Regions from separate parts of the Homo sapiens genome. Here all the other regions are linked to region 1. The links come from fine-mapping of genetic effects on gene expression. A gene starts in region 1. Each other region holds a variant in brackets. All regions are shown on one strand. Distances are between the middles of the regions.

What was found. PIP is the estimated chance that this variant, and not a neighbour inherited with it, causes the effect.
Region 2: its variant is the best candidate, but not a certain one, in a credible set for the expression of PHACTR2 in testis (GTEx, PIP 0.65).
Region 3: its variant is the best candidate, but not a certain one, in a credible set for the expression of PHACTR2 in esophagus muscle (GTEx, PIP 0.76).
Region 4: its variant is the best candidate, but not a certain one, in a credible set for the expression of PHACTR2 in T cells (TOPMed, PIP 0.80).
Region 5: its variant is the best candidate, but not a certain one, in a credible set for the expression of PHACTR2 in thyroid (GTEx, PIP 0.84).
Region 6: its variant is the best candidate, but not a certain one, in a credible set for the expression of PHACTR2 in whole blood (TOPMed, PIP 0.54).

Annotation. Positions count from the first base shown.
Region 1 is chr6:143,676,427-143,680,517 of GRCh38, reverse strand. PHACTR2 (phosphatase and actin regulator 2) reads right to left here and starts at 2,553. Exons shown (of 13, transcript NM_001100164.2): 1 at 2,309-2,553. The coding sequence starts at 2,354. RefSeq lists a silencer at 2,312-2,611 and an enhancer at 2,361-3,209.
Region 2 is chr6:143,745,498-143,749,588 of GRCh38, reverse strand. It overlaps PHACTR2 (phosphatase and actin regulator 2), which reads right to left. Exons shown (of 13, transcript NM_001100164.2): 3 at 524-604. Among named protein-coding and RNA genes, the nearest start is that of PHACTR2, 70 kb to the right of the region's middle. RefSeq lists enhancers at 1,538-2,207, 2,208-2,877, 2,878-3,548. The variant G/A (reference allele first, on the strand shown) is at 2,273.
Region 3 is chr6:143,819,368-143,823,458 of GRCh38, reverse strand. All of the region lies in intron 12 of PHACTR2 (phosphatase and actin regulator 2), which reads right to left. Among named protein-coding and RNA genes, the nearest start is that of LTV1, 22 kb to the left of the region's middle. The variant C/T (reference allele first, on the strand shown) is at 2,006.
Region 4 is chr6:143,539,398-143,543,488 of GRCh38, reverse strand. It overlaps a transcript of PHACTR2 not described here. Among named protein-coding and RNA genes, the nearest start is that of PHACTR2-AS1, 28 kb to the left of the region's middle. The variant C/T (reference allele first, on the strand shown) is at 1,582.
Region 5 is chr6:143,769,144-143,773,234 of GRCh38, reverse strand. It overlaps PHACTR2 (phosphatase and actin regulator 2), which reads right to left. Exons shown (of 13, transcript NM_001100164.2): 7 at 778-977. Among named protein-coding and RNA genes, the nearest start is that of LTV1, 72 kb to the left of the region's middle. The variant A/T (reference allele first, on the strand shown) is at 2,344.
Region 6 is chr6:143,834,878-143,838,968 of GRCh38, reverse strand. No RefSeq gene overlaps it. Among named protein-coding and RNA genes, the nearest start is that of LTV1, 6.4 kb to the left of the region's middle. The variant A/G (reference allele first, on the strand shown) is at 1,635.

The sequences.
Region 1 (4,091 bases):
CAAGCTAACTTCTAGCCTATAATGAAGATTTTTACAAAAGGCCAAATTGAGCGATAAGTATGAATAATTAAACTCTGTGCTATTGATTCCTTTGACTTAAACAGATTTTCGCCCACTAAGCATTTAAGATGAGAATCATCTTTAATACTGTAATCCTAAGCAGCTGCTCCAGACTTAAACAACTAGTCAATGGCTAAGATCAAACAGAACAAGGATCTTCACGCCATCTGTAAAGCCAGAGTTAAACAGTTAACAAGGAGTGAACAAAATACCTGGAATAGTAGAGAGTTTGACAGTCTCAGACTCAGAAAAATACAGACATGAATATAAAACTCAGCAAACGTTATTTAATTTAAATTTTTTTTTTTTTGGTTTTCATTTGGAATCTGATGGCAAACCTTCAGGGAAACAGGGTAGCTCTAACGGATTTAGAGACACTGGATACCACGAGAAAACTGTTCTTTTACAATACCACAACTTAAGTCATAACCACTGTCATTCCTTAACTGAAAAATAAAAAACCCTGTATTTATGATGTATGGATTGGTCATTTCAATTCATACAAACTTTTAATCCGCAAAACTGAGGACCTGCAATTTAAGTATAACACCGTTCCGTGAGATATTTCTCTGAATTATCTTTCATGATCAAGCATAAATTTTTGTTTAAAACACTTTTTACTTAAGTAGATTACAGTTTCTCATTATAATCAGTCATTTTATTTGGAATTATAGCAATCCGGGTTTTTTTGCTGTACTAAGACGTAGGGAGTCTCACTTTAGGATTTTATTTGCTTCTTAGACATCATTTATATAATATTCCTTGATTTTTATTAAGGCAAAATTTGCTTTTCTAATATTCACTCGAGTAATATTTTGTGATAAAATCACTAAATTCAGGACAATACTTTCTGTATACTCTTGTATTGGAGTACAGATTTAATTCTATCTTCGCCGGTGCACAAATGTAAAAATATAACCCTTCCTTGAAATGAAAAGAAGTCTCACACCACTTTAAGGTAAGACAAAGGAAACCAAGTCTTATTTGCACAAAATAGTTTACTAAATTTAAAATCCTACTCAACCCCTCCCCGCAAATATCTCTCAAAAAGCTGTCAACATGAGGTCTTTGATTTCAGAGCTGTAGCCATGTCATTAATGGTAAAGAAGGTATATTCTGATTCTGATGTCTCTTCTTTGCAGAAGGGTCTTCTGTGGTATTAACAGAAACCTCAGCAAAGCTTGTGGTATCTCAGGGAGTGAAGCTGTGCTACCTAAAGAAACCCACTGGGTATAAAGTGGGGTGGGGGGTTGGAATGACAGAATGCTATCTAGCTAGACATCCTGAGGCAGATTAAAAAACCTTCCTCTGTACCCTGTCATTTCCTTTCAGCAAGATCCTGTTGATGTTTGCACAATTTAAAAAGTGTATCAAATATCTCAATGAGTAACATAAACGGTCCCTTCGAGTATTATTTATTTTTAATCGTTGATGGAAAAATATCAAAATAGTACCTTTTAAATTTATTTCCTTATCCAATCACAAGTAACACCACCAAACAGTTTTTTTTTTTTTTATCCCTACACTGTCGGGGAAATGCCAGACGTACCTTCCTTCCCTCTTTTTGTTTAAGAAAATGGAAAAAAGAAACTTTTAAAACAGAGCATTAGAACTCAGACACGTTACACACGTCTCCATAAAACTAACTTTAGTCCTGGAGAACTAAGTTCATGAGATATGTTTCCCTAAATGTTATAGCTGCTGTATCTACTATAAACAAAACAAGTCTCATTTGAAACAATTACGCATTTCGGGGCTAGTTATTAAGTATTCAGCGTCTGCCAGGATAAGGCGATCAGCGCTTCTACTCCGAATAACAAACCATAAATCAGTTGACAAGCTTGAAAGCATTCAGTCCTAGTCTGTTCGGAAGCCAAGCGTAAATACAGAAAAACCTGTTGGCATGTTTCTCTTGCTCTCTAAGTTTCGCGTTTTTAAAAACACTGTAATACGCAAATGGCGTTTCCCGTAAGTTTCTGGCTCCGAAATAATTTGGATAAAAAACCACAGCGAGGCATCGCGCACAGAAAAATGGAGCCTGTGCCTTTAAGGTAAAATCGGCTGGATCCCAAAAGGCATTCCTCTTTCACGACAAAGAGTTTGGCGAGCGCTACCTCTGGGGTTTCTCCGAGGGACTTGGCGGGTCCGAGCGGAACCCGACCAGACGACTAACCCTGCCTGCCCCGGGGCCCCGCCGCCAGCCCTGCGCCCGCGCGGCGGGAGCGCATCGCGTGCGCCCCGGACTCACCGCTGCCGGGCTGCGGGGACAGCGTGGACACCGAGGTCTGGCCCATGACTGGGGTCGCAGGGCCAGGTCCAGCGATCAAGCGGCTCCTTTGGTCCTTCGATCATGGGTCCGCTCCCAGCCAGACTTCCAGGCGTTCATGTCCCGGCCTGTGCCGAGCGGCCCGCCGGGTCCCCTCACCTTCTACCCCGCGCGGGTCTCCCAGCCCGGCCGGCCGCAGCCGGCGCGGCGGATCCTGCCCAGCGGATGCCTGTCATTCCTCTATGCAGATTAGCTGGGGTCAGGGGTCACGGGGGAAGAAGGGGGGTGAGGGCGATAGGGAGGGGAGGAGGGGGAAGCGGGGGGAGGGCGCAGGAGCAGGGGGTGGGGGAAGCCCCCAGCCGGCCCCGCCGCACCCGCACCCCCTCAGGGTGGTAGGGAGTTCAGGCTTTCAGACTACTCCTCTTTGACTTAAAAGGTTCAAAGTCAAATGATCCTTACGGGCTACAAGAAAAGGAATTAAAGTATTTAGTCACGGTACTTAATTTAACAAAATTTGTTTCTTAAAAGTTATTTCCTTCCTTACATTCTATTTGCAGTATTGTGGCACTCTCATGTCTTGTGCCCATTTTTTTCTCGTTTTAAAAATTATCTTCCTTTTAACAAATATAATTTTTTAAAAACGGCACTAATGGCCTCAATCAGGCTTGACAACAAATCTAAATGGTAGGTCTACGTGTGAGATCAACAAAATATACTTTTTGCTGTCTCCCACCTAAAACTCTGGAGTGCTGACCTCTCCTTTATTTCAAAAGAATTACTGTGAAATAAAGTGATTAAAATACACAAAAGGGGAAAAAAACTATAACAAACTTGAAAGGTGAATTAAACCCTTCTATAATATCCTGTTAAATCTCAATCTTCTTAAAAATATGAATACAAATAAATATTCTTCATATTTACAGTTAATGATTAATTAGTATAAGTAATCTTCATGCTATATATATATAATGTGTGTATATATATATACAGTATATGGAACATCTGTATATGGTGCATTAGATTGGATGGTGGTTACTGGATGTGTTCATTTTATGAAAATTCATTGAGATGTCTGTAATGATGTGTGCACTTTGCTGAAGGCATATATTTCATTAAAATGTAAAAAATATCAGAAAGTGCAATATATTTAGGTCATTTACCACAGCTTTCATTTTTTAATTTATCCTAGACAATCAACTCTGAACTAACATGAAAATCATTTTTTTCTAAAATTTTTATTATTAAGATCGTGCAGAGCCTTGTTTGATTTTTTTGAAAGGCACTTACTTGTCTGTTTTGTCATGGTTAATTAAGTTGCCCTATGTTTTTTCACACCCAAATAGCCCACCCACCACTGTGAGGAAGATCTTTTCCCTAAAAAAGTGTGATCCATTGTCTTCTTCCCTTTGCCTAATTCACTCTTAAGAAACACTGATTTTTTTTTTTTTAATGAAATTGAGGATTTAACCAAAATGTGAGTTCTAATTAGGACAATAAAATTAATCCTAACTACATTTCCTTATAAATACAAAAATGTGTTTTGGAAACACATCCCACCTGGGGCGCTAAGCGATGAGAGTAAGCAATTATAATGGCTGGCTCCTCCAGCTCTTTGCTTTGAGTTGCCGTAAGAAAAAAACAAACAAACAAAAGTGGTTAAAGGTAAGTTAAGAGGGAGAATGTTTCACTCTTCCTTTTGACAGTCTTTCTGATAAAGGGAGGTCACTGATCAGAGGAAATATACAGTACCTTTTGCACATTCAAA
Region 2 (4,091 bases), 69 kb before region 1:
AAAGCAGAAAGCAGGTTAGTTTAGTTTGCCTATTCATGCTTTATTGATTGTACATTTCAGTGTTATTATAGAGTGCAAAGGACAAGAGGTATGTGTGCCTTCTCTCTTCTCTTTTATTGGTAGTCTTAAGAAACAAAATAGCATGAACCAAGCTAAAACTTTGCATTTACTCAAACACATGAGTTTCATGTGAATAGAAAGACTGAAGCTCAAGAATAGAGAAGAGAAGGAGCCGTAAGCATTTGTATCTCATCTGTATTGCCCTCGGATGTACCTTTGCAGAGTTTTAGGTTTAGAATGACATATGGTGATGGATTCACCAGGAAAGTCACTAGAATTCTATAATATTTCAGATTCTCTGCAGCTCACAAAGGCATTACCAATGGAAGCACGGCGCTTGGAATGCAGTAATCACCGCTTTACCTTACAAAGACCATGATCCCTTTAAATTTCAAAAGAAAACAAAAGAAAAACCAAAGAATGAAGGACCAAAATATTTAAAATGTATGATTAATTTCCTCACCTTGATCAGGCAATTCCTTAAGCACTCCCCTTCTTATCAGCTCCTCTCTACTTTGTCGTGTGGATATCTTCCTTTCTAATACTTTTAAAAAGAACAAGCACAAGTAAGAATCAAGTCATTCCTTAAGATAATTATGAAAAACATTCCAAGTAGAATTGAGCACATTTATTCTCCTCACATGAGGGCTCAAACTCGTTTTCTTAGTTGCTTAAAAAAAACACATGATCTGAGTGGAATCAACACAGCTATGACAAGAGCAAATGGCTGCAGCCCATGATCTGAAGTCCAACCGCCATCCCTGGTCTTTCAAATGGCCACCTTTGGCCTGGCGTCCAGGCATATTATTACATAGCAACTAGAGAGCATAAAGCCTGCTTCTCACGCTGAAGCTAGAAATGTTGCATTCTAAAACATATAATTCTATGGATATGCAGTGTATGAAGAAGATATGTATGCTTACATTAAAGAAAAAAACACATAAACATCAGTAAATATTCTGGGTAACCCATTTGCATTCCAGGAAAATGAACTATTTTCTAGTGTTTTCTCTCTCACTCCATCTATTACAAAAGCCCAACACATCATATTTCTATAACTCTTTCCCCTGCGTTCTCACTAATTCTAGAGAGTTCTTATATATTAGCTGACAATCCCCAGGTCTTAGGAGGATGGAGAAGGCAGTTAAGAATAATCAGCTTTCAGCCAGGAACGGTGGCTCATGCCTGTAATCCTAGCACTTTGGCGGGGGCCGAGGTGGGTGGATCACCTGAGGTCAGGAGTTTGAGACCAGCCTGGCCAACATGGCAAAACCCCATCTCCGAAAAATACAAAAATTAGCTGGTCATGGTGGTGGGCACCTGTAACCCCAGCTATTTGGGAGGCTGAGGCAGGAAAATCGCCTGAACCCAGGAGGCTGAAGTTGCAGTGAGCCAAGATCGTGCCATTGCACTCCAGCCTGGGCGACAAGAGCGAAACTCCATCTCAGAAAAAAAAAAATAATAATAATCAGTTTTCACAGACATGTAAAGCCATGGGGATCTTAACATTGATTCTTCCTTCTTCTGGAACAAATGTAAATGCCTGGTAGAACTTTGGAATGGGGCTTGGGAGCTCCGGAGCAGGATCTCAATTGTGTTCCCCTTGAGTGTGTATAGTATTAAATCCTGTGCTCTATATGTCCATGCAACTGCAAAGTCCATTCCTCACTTTCAGGGGCCAAGAAGGTGCGTAAAATTAACATGTGGTCATGTCATCTATTAATCCTGAGTCAACATTTCCCAAAGCGTGTTCTGCAGAACTCTATTTCCTCCAGACCTTCTGTTCAAAAATGCACTTTGATACAGCAGCGAAGGGCCAGATAAGGAGTCTAGGGCACTTTGAAGAGCAGGAAAGCTACACTGGTAGACAACATGCAGCTGCAGTAGCACGAGATTTCTGACGTTCCCCGATTCCTACTCCTGGGCTCATTATCTGCAAATCCTGGAACTGCTCTAGACAACATCGTTTCAACTAAACTAAAGCCATTACCCCAAACCAGGTTCTGACACATCCAAAGGGAGCAGGTGATAACACTAAGAAGACATTTGTGATAACACTAAGAACATGTTTGCTCAGGGGCTCCAGGGCCTCAAGCAAGGACACTGATAGGAGACAGGGTGGGAGGATGCGCCCTGGGCAGCCAGCTTTGTAGTAAGTGCATGAAAGTCTTCCTTAAGTGTTTGCTAATTGCATGTGCCACAGAATAGCAAC[G/A]CTTAGTCTCTTGAAGAACCTGGATTTTTTTTTCCTTTCTGATAATAGAAATTGTGTATTCCTTTTTAAATCCTGGTTGCTAGAAAGATCAGAGTAAAACTGGATATTTGACACAGATTTCATATGACAATTCGTGGATGGAATCTCTGTTTCCTCCTTCTCTAAAACCTGACTTGACTTATATTTTATGTACAATATATAAGCTCTTTACTGCACATTTTGTCAAACTTTTTTTGGATAGAATCAGAATAGAAACAAACAGGAAAATGAGTGAATGAATGAATAAATGGTCAAAAGAATGACAACGAACAGCTTTGGGTTAAAAAGGAGACATACACAGAAGGCTTCCCTCCCTTCCTTTAGATTCCTCACTGACCCCATTCTTCCTGTATCTTCCAGAAGCAAGTAACAACAGCTCACTTAAAGGTTAGTAATTTCAATGAAAAAAGTTAACCGGGCAAAGAGTCTTTTTTTTTTTTTTAAACTGGGTGTTCTATTATGTAAAAAGAGTGTTGTTATTTAAATACAGTTTCAATTTGTTCGGCCTCTTGTCAAAAAGGAGAGAACTCTTATCAACGGCAGGAAGCCAAAGAACACCCACAGTGACAGGTGGGACACTGCTGGGATTTTGCAGGTGCTTTAGAAGGACCTTGACCACTGCAGCCTCCTACGGATTGTAAAAGCCCATTCATGCTTGACTGGGCTCTGAGGGGTGGCGGGACTCTGTAGACCTCCTCCAACAGTTGTCTTGGCCTCCATTCCTGGGAACAGGCCCAGAGATTCACGGCTGTTCTGCCCTAAACTTAAGGATGAAGGTGGCAACTGCAAGAGCAAGTGCCGCTGGCCTAGGGATCGGGCCACATTCTCGCAAACCAAATGCACTGCCAATTCAGCATTCAATCACGGTGGCTGTCTTCCTAACCGGCCCTTTGCTCATAAGAAACAAAACTTTTACTGGTTTGCTGCTTCTTTAAAATTGCCCAAAACACAAAATGGCTGCCAGGAGTCCTGGATTCTAGTCCTTGAATTCCTACAACTTGTTGAGTGACCCTGGGCAGTCATTTTGAGTTCCTGGGCCTCTAATCCATTATCTGTAAAATAAGGGACACAATTCAAGGATCACTAAGGACAATTCATCCAGCTCAAATGCTGAGTGATCCTGTGTCATTAATCGAGGCTGTCTGTAATCTCTGCTCGGGCACCTTTTAAAACGTTCGTTCTTGCACTAAAAAATCATCCGATAGCCTGAAACATACCAGGTTTCTTATTCTGCCTTTCCATTATGGATCCCGGAGGATTCTTTAGTTTTAGTTTTGAGTTTTGCTTAAATTCTAACTTAGTCTCAGCTAAAAATTCCCCCTTTCTTCCTTGTAAACTAAAAATTCCCCCTCTTTCTTCCTTGTAAACTCTGGAGCTTTGAAGCAGCAGCCTTGGCTTCCTGCCAAGAATCAAAACCAACAGCTTTGTTCTTTTGCTCTACCTCCTATAAACAGGCTCTGATAGGAAAATGCCGTTGGCTATTTGTTTGGTCTTTCGCTGAGAGCGTATTTAACACACAATGCGGATACCTCTGTACAGGGCCAATGAGAACAAACTGCAGGCGACCGAGCACGGAAAGTATGTTGCTGGGGCACAACATTCCAACCACCGCTCTCACAGCAGTACAAGTATCTCATTCTTCACCTTTTAAAATATTTGCCTCTTGTTTATATAGTGCCTGCATGTTTGCAGAGCACATTCACTGGACACTTTTTCATGGGCTCAGAGGGGGTTTGCATTGCAATGAATCTGAGAGGTCATTCTAGTCCAACACACCGCA
Region 3 (4,091 bases), 140 kb before region 1:
TAAGCATATAAGGAAACCTTATATAAAAGATGCTGGTTATAGTATTCAAGTTACACAGCAACCAAGACAGAAAACATCACTATTCTTGAGCATCGTGCTCTAACCTTTATCAAGCAGAGGGAGATGTTTCACAAAGGGATTTTGGTACACCTCGTCTGTATTATAAAAGCACAGTAACAAATAGACACTTTTTCATTAGCTTCAGCCTCTCATCATCTCCTGCTGACGACTCCAAATCTACTTTCTACACTTGAATTTCCAAAAGCCCACAGGGCGCTTCCCCCCAGATGTTCCACAGGTATATACTAAGCATGTCCACAACTATACAAAGCTTTCCTTGTTAACCTGCCTTTGCACTTTGTCTTATTTAATATTCTATCTTTAAAAATATTTTTGGTCTAGAAACCTCAGATTAGCAATTCATTTCTCTCCCTCATCCAGCATTTCCTATTAGTCACCAAGTCCTGCCTCAACTGCCTGTCTTGGAATCATTAAAGTTCCATCTTTTGCTGGCACTACTTTTACGGTATGCTTGTTAGCCAGCCAGCTGGCTTCCTTTCCCTCCTTGTGAGTTCCTGAACATTCCTTGCATTTTTGTAGCCCGGTGCTTTTGAACATGCTGTTCACTAATACTGCAATTCCTTCCCTTCATTTCCTATCTATGTTTTCATTTTCAAGATCAAGGTCAAAAGTTATCTTCTCCATAAAGCCTTAAGTGATCAAGCTCTTCAGCCTACTTCTGCAATTCCACATTTATGCAACTCTGCCTAGCATTTCACTCTGTCTTCTACAGTCGAATGCTCATCTGCTCTGGTCAGCCAGTCTCCTAATTGGTTTCCCTGTCCCAGGCTCTCTCCATCAAATCTATGCTCCTCACTGTTGCTCACACTATCCTTAAAAATACTGGTTCCATCATTTCAGTTCTTGGGGTTTTTAAAATCTTTTTTTATTTTTAATTAGATATGGGGGTCTCGCTATGTTACCTAGGCTGGTCTTGAACTCCTGGTCTCAAGCGATTTGCCCACCTTTGCCTTCCACAGTGCTGTGATTACAGGTACGAGCCACTGCGCCCAACCCAGTTCTTTCTCAAAAGGATCGTATTGTTCCCCATTACCTACAAAATAAAATTTAAGCTGGGCATGGTAGCATACACCTGTAATCCCAGCTGCTTGGGAGGTTGAGGTGGGAGGACAGCCTTGAGTCCAGGAGTTCAAGACAAGTCTGGGCACATAGTAAGACCCTGTCCCTTAACAAAATTAAAATAAGAAAGCCAACAAAATAAAATTTAAAGTTCCTGGAGTAGCAAGTAAGGCTTTTCAGAAAGTGGCCCAACTCATGGTTCTAGCTATATCTCTATCACTGCTTCCAAATACTCTCCATTTCAATCACTTGCCCCAAAAAGGCTTTTGCGCTAATGCCCTTTCCTCTACCTACTTTTTGCAGGGTGGGTTGGGGGGAGCTCCAGAGGGGGACAGGGTTTCACTCCTATTGCCCAGGCTGGAGTGCAGTGGTGCGATCTCAGCTCACTGCAGCTTCAACCTCCTGGGCTCAGGTGATTCTCCCACCTCAGCATCCAAGTAGCTGAAACTACAAGCATGCACCACCATGCCCAGCTAATATTTGTATTTTTAGTAGAAATGGGGTTTTGCTATGTTGCTCAGGCTGTTCTCAAACTCCTGCACTCAAGCAATCTGTCCTCGGCCTCCCAGCGTGCTGCGATTACAGGTTTGATCCACCACACCTGGCCTACTCTTTCTTCTACCTTTATCTCTCTTACCATCTGCGCTTTATGCAGTCTCACTCTGTGAGTTCTCCAAACTCTTTTCTCCACTGCTCAGGGAAGCACTAATTGCTCTCTTTCCTGTGTTCCCATAACCTTTGGCTTATGCCAGTTATTGCTTACATTATATAATCTTTGGATACATGTGCCTTTGCTATTGGATCATGAGAAGCTGAGGAAGGAAACTTTCTTATCCATTTTTACATACTCATTGAATACAATCTC[C/T]GGCACGTGATAGTACTTACTAAACGTCACTGTGTTGAATACAAGCATTACAAAATGAAAAACTAAAAAATAAGAGCAGGTGAAATGAGATGGGCCACGAATTGATAACTGAGGAGCTGCTAGTTGGATACGAGGGACTTATATTACTTCTGTGTTTGACAAAAGTCAAAAGAAAAATAAGATATACCAAGCTTTACAAAACTGGTAGGCAATTTATTACTAAAGCAGGAATGTGTCCACTTTGAGTTCTGTTCTTAGTCTATCCCTGACTGTAACCTTGGGCAGATGTGAGGACCGCCATGCCTGCATTTGATACACAGAGGCAACATCACTCTTTCACTTTTTCGAGGGCCAGGTCAAGGGCCCTGCTGCCTCGTGCAGCCTCAGGACATTGTTCCCTGCATCCCAGCCACTTTGGCTCCAGCCTTGGCGCAAAGGGCCCCAGATACAGCTCAGGCTTCTGCTTCAGAGGGTGCAAGCTGAAAGCCTTGACAGCTTCTACATGATGTTAAGCCTGCAGATGCACAGAATGCAAAAGTGATGGAAGCTTCAGACACTCCACCTAGATTTCAGGGGATACATGGAAAAGCCTGGGTGTCCAGGCAGAAGCCTACTGGAAGGGCACAGCCCCCACAGAGAACCTCTACTAGGGCAGTGTGGAAGGGAAATGAGGAGTTGGGGATTCCACAAAGGGTCTCTGCTGGGGCATTGCCTAGTGGAACTGTGAAAAGGAAGTCACTGTCCTCCAGACCCCAGAATGGTAGATCCACTGGCAGCTTGCACCCTGTGCCTGGAAAAGCCACAGACATTCAACGCCAGCCTGTGAGATCAGCCTGGGGGCTGCACCTTGCAAATCCACAGGGGTAGAGCTGCCCACTTACACCAGAGTACCCAGGACATGGGACATGGAGTCAGAGGAGATTATTTTGGAGCTTTATGATTTAACAACTGCCTTGTTGGGTTTTGAACTTGCATGGGGCCTGTAGCCACCTTCTTTTGTCTGATTTCTCCCTTTGGGAACGGGAATGTTTACCCAGTATAGATCTCCACCATATCTTGGAAATAACTTACTTGTTTTTTATTTTACAGGATCATAGGTGGAAAGGATTTGCCTTTTTTCAGATGAGATTTTGAACTTTTGAGTTAATGCTGGAATGAATTAAGACTTTGGGGGACTTTTGGGAAAGCATTTTGAAATGTGAGAAGGACATGAGATTTGGGAGCAGCCAGGGTCAAAATGATACAGTTTGGATATTTGTCCCTGCCAAATCTCATGTTGGAATATAATCCCCAATGCTGGAGGTGGGGCTGGGAGGTGTTTGGGTCCTGGGGGTGGATCCCTATGGCTTGGTACTGTCTTTGTGATGGTGAGTGACTTCTCACGAGGTCTGGTTTAAAAGTGTGGGGCACTTCTCCTCCACTCTTTCTCCCATTCTTGCCATGTGATGTGCCTGCTCCCCCTTCGCTTTCTGCCGTGATTGGAGGCTTTCTGAGGCCTCCCCAGAAGCAGATGCTGCTATGCTTCCTGTACAGCCTGCAGAACTGTGAGCCAATTAAACCTGTTTTCTTATAAATTACCTAGTCTCAGGTATTTCTTTATAGCAGTCAAGAATGGCCTAATACAGTCTGTGAGGGTGTTTTCAGGGACTGGCTTGTGAGTCTGAGTGGACTAGGTAGGGAAGATCTTCCCTCAGTGTCGGTGGCCACAGCCAATCTGCCAGAGAGCCAGAGAGGACAAAAACAGAGAAAAGGAGACTATGTCAATCTATCTACTGGAGCTGGGATACATGCTCTTCCTCTCTTGTCCTTGAACAACAACTCCAGGCTCCCCACCCTTTGTACTCCAGAACTTACACCAGTACTCCCCACTGCCTCGAGCTCTCAGGCCTCCAGCCTTGGACTGAGCCAGGCTACCAGCATCTCAGGGTCTCCAGGTTGCCGACAGCCTGTTCTGGGACTTCTCAGCATCCATTATCATGTGAGCCAATTGCCCTAATAAATCCCCTCTCATATATCTATATACATATATCTTATTGGTTTTGTTTCTCTGGAGAACTCAGACAGATACAGACCCCTTTCTTGGCCA
Region 4 (4,091 bases), 140 kb after region 1:
AGGACAGGGCACTAATCATAGCTTATACTTTATTGCACTGTGGTCTTTGGCTTATTGGCCTGTCTTTCCCCACTAAACTGTGAGTTCCTGAGGGATGTCTTTGCAACCTTTGTGTTAGCTCACTAGCCATTTGTTGATTGAAAGAAGAAATGAAAAATCAAGATATGCCCTTGCCTACAGCATCTTCATCAGTACGTAGGGGCCAGAATAAATCCACGGCTTTAATATCTGTCTCAGAGCTGCCACTGAGGTACTGACACAAACTAGAGCTTAACTAGTTTAAGTAAATTAGCTCTTCATGCATCCTCTGAAAACAAGAACAGTCATCATCATCATCATGTTATTTACTGAGCATGATGCAAGGCCTATAGCTTAGATCACCAGAGACACTGCTGTGTCTGGCCTGCCACACCCTTTCTGAGTATCCTCTCTGCTTTCAGTCTAACTCCAGAATCACAGAATCACATCTGCTCACCTTTGTATGCCCAGTGCCTGGAACAGTACCTGGCACATAGCAGTAATCAATAAAGACTAATTGAATGAATGGACGAATGGAAACTGGCCAGGCTCAGTCCCTTCTACATGGCCATGTTGGCACTGTGACTTCATGCTCCACAACTGGTTTCGGCTCCAGTGAGTATCTGATCAAAGGCAACAAATCCAGAGGCACCTATGGGGCATATGATCTCTGTCTTGCTGTATAAAGGTGGCTTCACACAATAGGTCTTTTCTAGAGAATTTGAACTATGAAATATGAAGAAATTTTCCCCAGGTAAACACAAGGCAAGAGCTAAAAGGAAACAGAGGAAGATTGCTGTCAGGTAGGTAGGACCCCTGATGTGCCATTTTAAGCAGATGGATGAGGAAACACCTATGAAGGAGAGATAATCTGTTTTGATTAGAGAATAAGAAAGCTGGTCAACAGAGAGACAAACAGAAGCTCAAGCCTGCTGAAACCATGCCAGCCTAGGAAAGGGCTAGAGAAAGAGGAATTGGTTGCCTCAATTCCTGACAACTCTCTGGTGTCAGCCCCAGGTCAGGTGCAATCTGACCTAATAAGGACCTCCTGACTTAACAGGTGAAGCCAATTTTTCAAATGTGCCAAGCTCTGATACAGGACTGTCATCAGCTGCTATGGTAACTTGGTAAGAATCAGATAGGAGATGCCCCTTCTGGAATGAAGCCTGACCGGCGGTCAGGCTCCTGGGTAGATGAGAAGCCCATGGCTTTTGTGCAAAGAAAAGGGTGCTCTCCCTGGGGGAGAAGGAAGGCACACATGTCCACACCAGGTACACAGCTTGACCTGGGCAAAGCGCAGGCTGGACCTGAGCCCACCAGCACCTGCTCCATCCAGCACCCTCTTGTACTGTCCGAGCTGGCCTGGGCAGGGTGGCCTTGCTATTCCCTGACCAGGGAGAGACAGAAAGTAAACTTAGAACCAGATGGTCTTTGTTTGGAAAAAAACCCACTCTGAGTTACACAAATGTAAAGTGAGCAGGTGTTCATTGTTCCTGGCCTAGGGCACCTCCAGCTTAGCTCGTGGCTGGGGCTCAGAAGCCTCTTGGGACCCAGACACCCTTT[C/T]GGAGCACAAAGCATCAACTCAAAGAGTTACAACCTTGGAGGTCAGTAAGAAACATAGTAGAAGCACCAGCAAGGGATAAGCAAGCACAAGCTTCCCCCAACAGCACAGGTGACCCAACAGCAGAACTGGTCTTGGACAGCAGTATCTCATGGAAGTGGCCAGGAAGCAGTGCATATGAACTGATAGTACATTGAGGTATGCGAGATTTCTCACTTCCACTCAGCACTGAACACACCAGGAATTAAAGATTTGAGAAAAAGATCCTGGATTTGCTGTTACCCCTATGCCTATATATACCAGGGCATAGGGATACTGAAGAGATGAATCACAGTAATAAAAAGATGAGATTGTACTTGCACATTAAGCTAATGAAGTGGTCCACACACCTATACTGCTTTTTTTGGAGGTGGCTTGAATGGTTCTCTGATCTATGCAGCCCAATGTGCAATGTGCAAGACTAAGCATCATCACATGAAAATAAAAACATCTTTTGGTCCTCCCTATAGCCCACACAGGTCCAGAACAGCACCTGGCACCCAGTAGGCCAACAGTCGGTACTTGCTGAATCTTTACATGGTCTATGCCCCTGGCTGTGTGTCTTCAGGTTCTTTACTTACTAAACACTGTGCTTATCAGAACAGCACATCAGAAACCACTAAAAAGTTATCAAAGCTCCTTAATACCGAACAGGATCTGTCTAAAACTTAAGAGAATACATGACCATATACTATGAGAACCTTGTTTCAAGATTTTACTTTAAAAATTGAGTTAAACATCACTTTATTTACAAAGAAATACTGGATTTTAAAAATCCAAGGCTGGGAGCAGTGGCATGCGCCTATAACACCAGCTACTCAGGAGGCTGAGGCAGCAGGATCCCTTGAGCCTCAGGGTTTGAGGCTGCAGTGCACTATGGTTGTACTGGCGAACAGCCATTGTACTCCAGCTTGGACAACACAGCAAGACTCCATCTCAAAAAAAGAAAAATAAATTCAGAACTTTTGTTGAATTCCAGAAGTGTGAGTTCAAAAACCATATGGCAAAATGAATCCACGTTTTTATAAACATAATAAAAGAGTTTATTCATAAATTCCACTGTTACTTCAATTCTATCTTTAAAAATTGCTTATTTGAAAATATTTTGTTTTCTTAACTTTTTTGTATAGATTTTGAAATATAAAACTGGCTTGGGTTTTTTTTTTCTGATAAAGCACTTGCATTCTTATGTGAAAAATTCCTCAAGCCACAAATTAAATAAAATCCCTTGAAGTCTGAGACGCTTGTCTTGACAAAAATCTAGTAATAATCTAGCATAGTCAGGGGAAGCCGATTCTCTTGGGGTACCCTCACGGTATTTATCAACACAGTGCTAGCACAGAACAGGTCTTTAAAAATATATATTTAGTATTAGACTGACTGTTTGCAGCAGTGGGCAAGATTTTAGAGGCTGAGTTCCAAGTTTTTATTATTCTTTCCTGGAAAGAAGGATGGAGGTGGAGCTGTGGGGGAGGCTGGGGTAATGATTGCAGGTAGCAAGGATGGTCTGTCGTTCTGGAGGGAGGCTGTTCTCTGACAACTCTTGGCAAGCACTCTTTCTTCCCCTTCCTCTTCTCCATTTCAGGTCACTGTCACTGCAAAAGGTGATTTCCTTTTCCCCTCAACACTCTTCTAAGGACCCACAGCAGGGAGTTAACTCATGATTAGAAATTATCCCTTAGGAAGAACATCTGACAACTAGCTGGAATCAAAAATAGGAGCAAGGAAGGCTGCTTGGGAGACTGCAGTAGTAGAAGAGAGGATGTAGCAATAGGGATGTGAGAAGGTACTAAAACAAATTCTTCAAACTTACACTTGTATCACGGTATCACAAGACATACGGCAGCAAGCCAGGGTGACATAATATGGCACAGGACAGCAGTTCTCAAACTTCGCTACTCATTAGCGTCATCTAATGGCCAGGATGCACCTGATGCCAATGAAATCAGAATCCCTAGGTGTGCGACCCAGCCACAGGTTGCTTCGTTGTTAACTCCCCAAGCAATTCCTACGTGTAGCCAAGTTTGAAAACCAGTGTGGGAGAGCAGCACTTTTCAAACTGCAAGGTGACTAAGAACAACCTGGGGATCTTATTAAAATGCAGATTCAGTTAAGCAGGCCTAGGGTGGGGCCTGAGATTCTGAGATGAGGCCACAGATGCTGGTCCGGGGCTGTTTTGGCAAGCCACACATGACCTTGCTCTAGGTGCTGCCTCTGTGTGTGCCCAGAGCTTCTGGAGAAGGGCTGGAAATTGGGCTACTATAGTGTTAGGCCAAGGAATGTTTTTACAAGGCGTGTAACCCTCTTATTGTGCCTCTGAGATAATTCAGAGATCCCAGCACAGTCATCTTGCTGATTCTCAGATCCATCCTGCATGGCTTACAGAGGCTGCAGAGGCTGTGGGGCATGCTGGAGAAATACTCTGTGTGTCAGTGAAGGACCTGCTCATTCTTTTTCTCTCTGACTCTAAGAG
Region 5 (4,091 bases), 93 kb before region 1:
ATTCTTTTTATTATTATTTTTTGAGATGGAGTCTCGCTCTGTCTCCCAGGCTGGAGTGCAGTGGCGCGATCTCAGCTCAGTGCAACTTCTGCCTCCTGGGTTCAAGCGATTCTCCTGCCTCAGCCTCCCGAGCAGCTGGAATTACAGGCGTGCGCTAGCATGCCCATCTGGATTTTGTATTTTTAGTAAAGATAGGGCTTCGCCATGTTGGCTAGGCTAGTCTCGAACTCCTGACCTCAAGGGATTCACCCACGTTAGCCTCCCAAAATTAGACATGAGCCACCGTGCCCAGCCTCTTAATGCTAATGAGGTATTTGGCATTCTTGACTCATTCCTCCTTCCCCTTTCTATAAACCCCAGTACAAAAGCGAGTGAAAATTTCAAACACCTCCAATGAGTAAGCCTATGAATCTGCACTGACTTTCTTTCTTCAACAACAGGCCCAGAGTGGAAGGGCTCTCTTTGGTCATAGTGAGAAAGGTCTCTGTTATTAGAAAGCTTTGATTCTCAGCACAAATACTAATATGCACATCTAGCACATCTAGCTCATCTAGCTCATCGACAAAGGCCAGATCCAGCCATGTGACATCATCTTCTGGAAAGGCCTCCCATCAAAAGCTAAACTTTAGGATATACACATTTCTAATTTGAGAAAGGAGGATGAGGGGAAAGAAAACATCAGATGTCTGGTTCCTAATGAGGCTTTTATTCTTTATAAACTGCAGCTGCTTCTGCTTATCACCCACGCTCCTCCCTGCCTCTTGAAAACAGTCTTACTTTCTCCACTGCCATCCTCATCTTCGTCTTCGTCCTCATCATCGGTGTACAAGATAGGCCCGTCCGAGTCAGAGTCATTGGCTTGGTATTCCCTGTGGCCTTCATCTTCTGAGGCACTAAAGGATTCTGAAGATTCGCCCATCAGCCCAGGAGTCAGTAGCTGAGGCACTGTCTTCCCCAGCTCCTCTTTGGTTGTGAAACTGTTAAAGGCAGAAAAGCATGGGAGTGATGTGAAGCTCAGAGCAACCCTTGGCGGCACTGACACTAAGAAAAAGAGCTCTAGTTTCATGGGCTTCCTTCAGGCTGAGGAAAGCAGACACTTGACATAGGCCAGGCTAAAGTCACTGAAATGAAACCTTAATTCTCAAGGTTTTACATTTTTCATCTGTAAAATGCAAACGCTTGGTATCTGATACATTTAGCAAACAAATAGGGTAAAACTACATTTTGCAAATTATTTTTTCCTTCAAGTGTCAGCTACAGCCTCAGCTCCTTCAGGAAGCTTTCATGGACCTTCAGTTTAATTCCTTGCCCCCACGTCTGTCCCATGGGGACCTGAAGACGATCCCGCTAGAGTGCTTAGCATACTACATCTTGACCACCCATTGCTTCTCTGCCTTCTCAATCCCACAAGTTCCTGGAAAAGTGAGACTCATTGTTTTGCATCACAGCACCCAGAAGGTAATGACGTAGAAAAGTACATCTTCTTTCATTAATATATGGCTGGGTTCGGTGGCTCACACCTGTAACTCCAGCACTTTGGAAGGCTGAAGTGGGAGAATCACTTGAGCCTAGGAGTTCAAGACCAGCCTGGGCAACATAGGGGACCTTGTCTCCACTAAAAATACAAAATATTAGCCAGCAGTGGTGGCCGGCACCTGTAGTCCCAACTACTCGGGAGGCTGAGGCAGGAGAATCGCTTGAACCCGGGAGGTGGAGGTTGCAGTGAGCCAAGATCGCGCCATTGCACTCCAGCCTGGGCAACAAGAGCAAAACTCCGTCTCAAAAATAAATAAATTAAATAAATACATAAATAAAATAAAATAAAATAAAATAATAAAAAATTAGCTGGGCATGGTGGCGCTTGCCTGTAGTCCCAGCTTGAGCCTGGGAAGGATTGCTTGAGCCTGGGAAATCGAGACTGCAGTGAGCCATGCTAGCACCACTGTACTCCAGCCTGGGTAACAGAGTGAGACCCTGTCTCAAAAAAATAAAAAAAAGCATATATATATATATATATATATATATATATATATATATATACACACATATATATATATATACATATATATATATATACATATATATATATACATATATATATATGTAAAGTACATATATGAATTAATCCTGCTTTTATCCCAATATGTAAATAGTAAAAACTCATTTATCCTATGTGTGTTTTCATTTTTAAAACTGCCTCTTGTAACATAACAGACAATGTGCAAGTTAAATACACTTTTTAGAAAAAAGGTAATATGACTCTAGCCTGGGTGACAGAGCGAGACTCCATCTCAAAAAAAAAAAAAAAAGAAAGAAAGAAAGAAAAAAGGTGATATGCAAGGA[A/T]GCAATAATTTTCTATTATTTAGCCTAGTAAAAGTCTATGATTTAAAGAGTTACTATTAATGTACAAAGATTGCCAATTTTCAAAGACTAGACTAAAAAATACATAGTAATTTACATAAAAACATCACATCAAAAATAATGTAATCTTCATTTTAAGACACAAAGATCCCCCAAATTGCTTTCTGGTAAAAAGTTCTTCCAGCAATAAACACAGATAAACTTTATCAGAATATGAGGTATTTAAAACCCTACTTCATAGTTATAAACCTGAGTGATCACTGTCAAAATTTTGTTTCTCACTTATCAGAAAAACCCAACAGACTATATTCTTGTTCTCAAACAGGGAAATAGGAAATCTCATTTTTATTGTGTAAAATATACATAACATAAAATTTGCCATTTTAACCAGTTTTAAGTGTACAGTTCACTGGCATTAGACACATTCACATTACCGTGTAACTACCACCACCAACCATCTTCAGAACTTTTTCGTCTTCCCAAATTGAAACTCTACCCATTAAACAACTCCCCATAACCATTATCTCCCAGCCATTGGCAACTACCATTCTACTTTTTGTCTCTATAATTTGACTATTCTAAGCACCTTCTCTAAGAGAAATTATACAATGTTTGTCTTTTTGTATGTAACATACTTCACTTAGCATAATGTCTTCAAGGTTCCTTCATTCATGTCGTAGCATGTGTGAGAATCTGCTTCCTTTTTAAGGCTGAATGATATTCCACTCTATGTATATAACACATTTTGTTTATCCATTCACCAATCAATACACATCTGTATGTTTTCACCTTTTGGCTATTGTGAATAATACTGCTTTGAGCACTGGTGTACAAATTCAAGTGCCTGCTTTCAATTATTTTGGCTATATACATGGAAGTAGAATTGCTGGATCACATGGTAATTCTATGTTTAATTTTTTGAAGAACCACCATACTGTTTTCCACAGTGTGAAATCTCATCTTAAATAAGAGAAGATCTATTTTTATAGGAAAAATTTTCCACAGTCTGGGTTTTTAGTTGATTGCCACTGGAAGCCATTCTTGTTTGAATTGGCTGCCATTATGGGTGATCACAGAATGTTTAAAATACATGCCAATTAATAATATGTTCTGAATAACAGAACAAATTTGAGAGATGAGTCCTTTATTTGTTGGTGTCATTGTTCACTAATTAATTATCATATTGATTATTATTCTAATCTTACTATTTGTATTTTGTTTCATGGTTTTCAAAGAGTCCAGCATACATCTACAATTTACAAGTATTCTATTGTATAAGGAGGGCAGATAACTTATAGTTCATGGAATCAAAGAAGACCATGAGTGAGTTGCCTAACCAAGGTAGCAAGTCTTGTCTAGAATCCAGACTGAAGACTCGGTCTACCTATTAAATTTTACATTTATTATACTATTATATTTTACACTTAATGAGTTATGTTATAAATTATATCTGATGTTAAATATATTCCAAATTTGTATTAATCAACTCATGACTTACCCCTCATTTTTCCCCCTCGGGTTCCTGGGCACACTGGACAATATAGTGCATTCTATACATGTTTGTGAAAATGAACTGTACAAAGTAGCCTTTTGGATATGGCCTCCAAATGGGCTTATTAGTTTTCACCTTATATTGTATCACACATATGTGTTACTGATGAAGCTGCCCATGAATGGAAGCCTACCAAATAATTAGTACCCTGCCATATGGGAAGAGAGGTAGGTATTTT
Region 6 (4,091 bases), 160 kb before region 1:
TGGGGGGCTCTGAGGGACCCTACACCATCTCTGCCTCTAGGAAACATTTTCATACTCTTCAAAACTGGGGATCATTCCGAATGTTCTCACTGTATCCTGTACACACTACTCTACTCAGTTATGCTGAATTGTGAATTCTTATTTTCATCTATCTCTAGAACCAGACTGCAGTCACCTACTCAAAAGCAAGGATCCTTGTCTTGCTGACTTGAACGTCTTTAGGGCCTAGCATAGTAAAGGCTCAATAATAATTGCACTGTTCCAAGTATTTTACCTACATTTACTCATTAAATCCTTATAGCAGATTTAAGTAGACATGCAATTACCCTTTTCTACTCAGCAGAGATTACAGAACAGAAAGTTAAGTGACTTTTGCCCCAGGGTACAAAGTCCATAAGTGAGGAAGCCAGAATGTGAACTCAGTTGTAGCTTCGGAGTCACACCCTACCATTACAGTACTGTACACCCCGTTTCAGAAAACCACCTTGTTACAAAATACTCCAACATATAACATGAGCTTATATGTGTCAGAGACTGTTCCGAGTGCTGTCTTAATGTAGAAAAATGTTATTCGCCTCCAGTGAAAGCAAAAATAATTGAAATATTATAGTAATGATAATAAATTCAAGCAATACTTCTACTCTTTTAGTATGCTCTAATTACTGGTGTCCATGTTAAAGTGATTAAACAGAATTTCTGGCTTAGTCTAGGCTTTGAATAAGTTTTTAAAAATTTTTTATATGGAACTAAGCCATTGAAATTATGGTTTTATTCGCATTCATATCACATTCACTGGTTCTCCCTCTTCCGTCAACATCACTCAAGGAGTCCCAAGCACCAGGAAGCCAATGTACACAGAAGTGCCGAGAAAACTAATTAGAACCTGAAGCAGTAACTTCTAGGAGTTATAAATTACATGTTTGAAAATCCTAATAAAGCTTATGGAGGTACTTATTTTATTTTTGTGTTTTGAGATGGAATCTTGCTCTGTTGCCCAGGCTGGAGTGCAGTTACATGATCTCGGCTCACTGCAACCTCCGCCTCCCTGGCTCAAGCGATTTTTGTGCCTCAGTCCCTCAAGTAGCTGGGACTACAAGTGTCCACCACCACACCTGGCTAATTTTTGTATTTTTAGTAAAGATGGGATGTCACCATATTGGCCAGGCTGGTCTCAGACTCCTGATCTCAAGTGATCTCCCCAACTCAGCTTCCCAAAGTGCTGTGATTACAGGTGTGAGCCACCGCACCCAGCCGGTACTTAGTTTATAAAAAGGAAAAGTGCAGCAAAATGGATGTACCAGGATGTTCAATGTAACGCTGCTGGTAAAAATAAAACAATTAAAATTTCATTAGTGAGCCCGTTGTGGTGCCCAGGAGTTTGAGTCCAGCCTAGGCAACATAGCAAGACTCTATATCTTAAAAAAAGAAAAATTTCGTTAGTAAAGGATTAATTAAAACAAACAAACAAACCAACCAACCATTCATACAACGAGCTACTGTGATGCTGGTTTAATTTAGATCAAGTTTTGTGTTTTTGAGATGGGGTCTTGCTATGTTGCCCAAGCTGGTTTCAAGCTCCTGGCCTCAATTGATCCTCTTGCCTCAGCCTCCCAAGTAGCTGGGACTATAAGCAC[A/G]TCACTGTGCCTGGCTTCTTTTTGTTAAAAATGTATGAAAAAAGAAAAATATGTTACAAAGAAATATCATAGTGCAGCCAGGCACGGTGGCTCACGCCTGTAATCCCAGCACTTTGGGAGGCCGAGGCGGGTGGATCACGAGGTCAGGAGATCGAGACCATCCTGGCTAACATGGTGAAACCCCGTCTCTACTGAAAACACAAAAAAATTAGCCAGGCGTGGTGGCGGGCGCCTGTAATCCCAGCTACTTGGGAGGCTGAGGCAGAAGAATGGTGTGAACCTGGGAGGCGGAGCTTGCAGTGAGCCGAGACTGCGCCAACGTGCTCCAGCCTGGGCAGCAGAGCAAGACTCTGTCTCAAAAAAAAAAAAAAAAAAGAAATATCATAGTGCAAGTGTAAAAAAAATCTGGGAGACTATGCACCAAATTGTCAACAACGATTATTCACAAAGAGCTGGGATGGGATTGCAGGGAACTTTCAGTGTCTATATGAGATATTTCTTCAATGTTTATGTGATTAGAGTGAAGACTTAAAGTATTACATTTGGTTTTATATGTATATATAAAGTAGCAATACTTAAAAATAAAAGGAAAGAGGCACTAATATAATTTGGTTCAATAAATATTGTTGAACGATAATGCTCTTCATAACTGGGGCTCATCCCGAATGTTCTCACTGTATCCTGTGATCACACTACCCTGCTCAGTTATGCTAAGTTGTAAATTCTTATTTTCATCTGTCTCTAGAACTAGACTTCAGTCACCTACTCAAAAGCAAGGATCTTTGTCTTGCTGACTTGACTTCTTCAGGGCCTAGCATATTGAAGGCTCAATAATAATCGCACTGTTCAAAGTGCTTTACATACATTTACCCATTAAATCCTTATAGCAGGATTTAATGTCATGGCTCTCATATATAAAGTGAGCACATGTTAAAGATCTTATTTTACACATGATTAATGAAGGAACCAGTAAGATGTTACAATTAGTTCAAAGGACAATCCAAAGAACAGAAACATTTATAGAGCAGGAATATTGTGAAGAATGTGCAAATGGAGACACAACTTACTTCTTCCACGATGAGGGAGGGAAGTGAGTTGAAATCTCTACTGGACAGAATTTATGTAGATGTTTAGAGACAAGAATTGTTTTGCATGACTGTCAGCTTTCTGAAATTTACAATGTTGTAAAATAGCTCAAAGATAAGGAGAGGCACAGAACCCTCATAAAATCAGAATCAAAAGGTGTGCTTGTCTCTACAATGCATCATTTCTCACGAAGCACAAATTTTCCCCTACAATATTAACTGATGACAGTAGTATGCATTGTATACTAGCTGGAAGTAGTCTCTGGCATTTGTTTCATTCGTATTATGCAACTCGGGCTAAATGGACCTCAGTTTACTTACCTGAATGTAAAATGGGAATGATATTAATACGTACCTTCCAGAGTTGTTGTTGGATTAAATGAGAGGATGGGTATGAAGTACTTGGACCTGTGCTTGGCTTCTAGTAAGCATTTGATGAACGTGAGCTACTGTCGTTTTCTCAGCTGAATGTAGTTATTCACCTCACTGCATTGTACTTCAGGACGATCGTTTCCTGAAACAGGACCTTCAGTATCTAGGATGCGTCAGGGGGCACGAGCTTTGCTTCAAATCAGGTTCACTTCATGAGAATCTGTTTGCTTGCACATTGAACCAACGTGCAAGCAATATAAGGCATTTTTAAATATAATTTTTGCTTTACAACTTACCCCCCTACATAATGTAGTATTCCATTTTATTTAAAGTTAAGCTATCCCATAAAACTCATTAAAATTAAGACAAACATCCTAAGCACTTAGATGATGAATAAATGATTTGATTTTGCAGCCTTGGAGACAAAACCCGGCAATGAGAGAATAGTTTATTAGATTTTTATTGTAGTAATTTCTTCATGGTCTTAAGCTACATTGTCTGTTGAAGAGGTTTATCCACTTCCACAGCTTCCATTACACGTGCTGCTGATTCTCAGCTTCCTATCTGTAGCCCAGACTTTTTTCCTGACTTTCAGACTCATATATCCAACTGACTACTGTACATCTATCCACATGTGGACGTCCTAACAGAAGGCAATTCAAACAAATTGAATTGCATTTCCAAATTTGAATGCCTCCCCTTTCTGTACTTCCTATGCTCTCTTGCTCTTCCCTGCCCTCCAATCTAGCCTCACATCAGCCTCAGCGCTGCTGTTTTCTATTTCAGCAAGTGGCATCACCACCATCCGCTCAAGCCAGTCACATGATAGGTATAATCTTAACTTTTCCATCTCCTCCATTTACCATATGGAACAATCATTTCCACTTCATAACTGTCCTTTGAGTCTGTTTATGTCTCTTCATTCCAATAGTTAATACCTTGTTTGGGGCCACCATCACCTCCCAACAAGATTATGGCAGTAGTAATGGCCACCATGCTT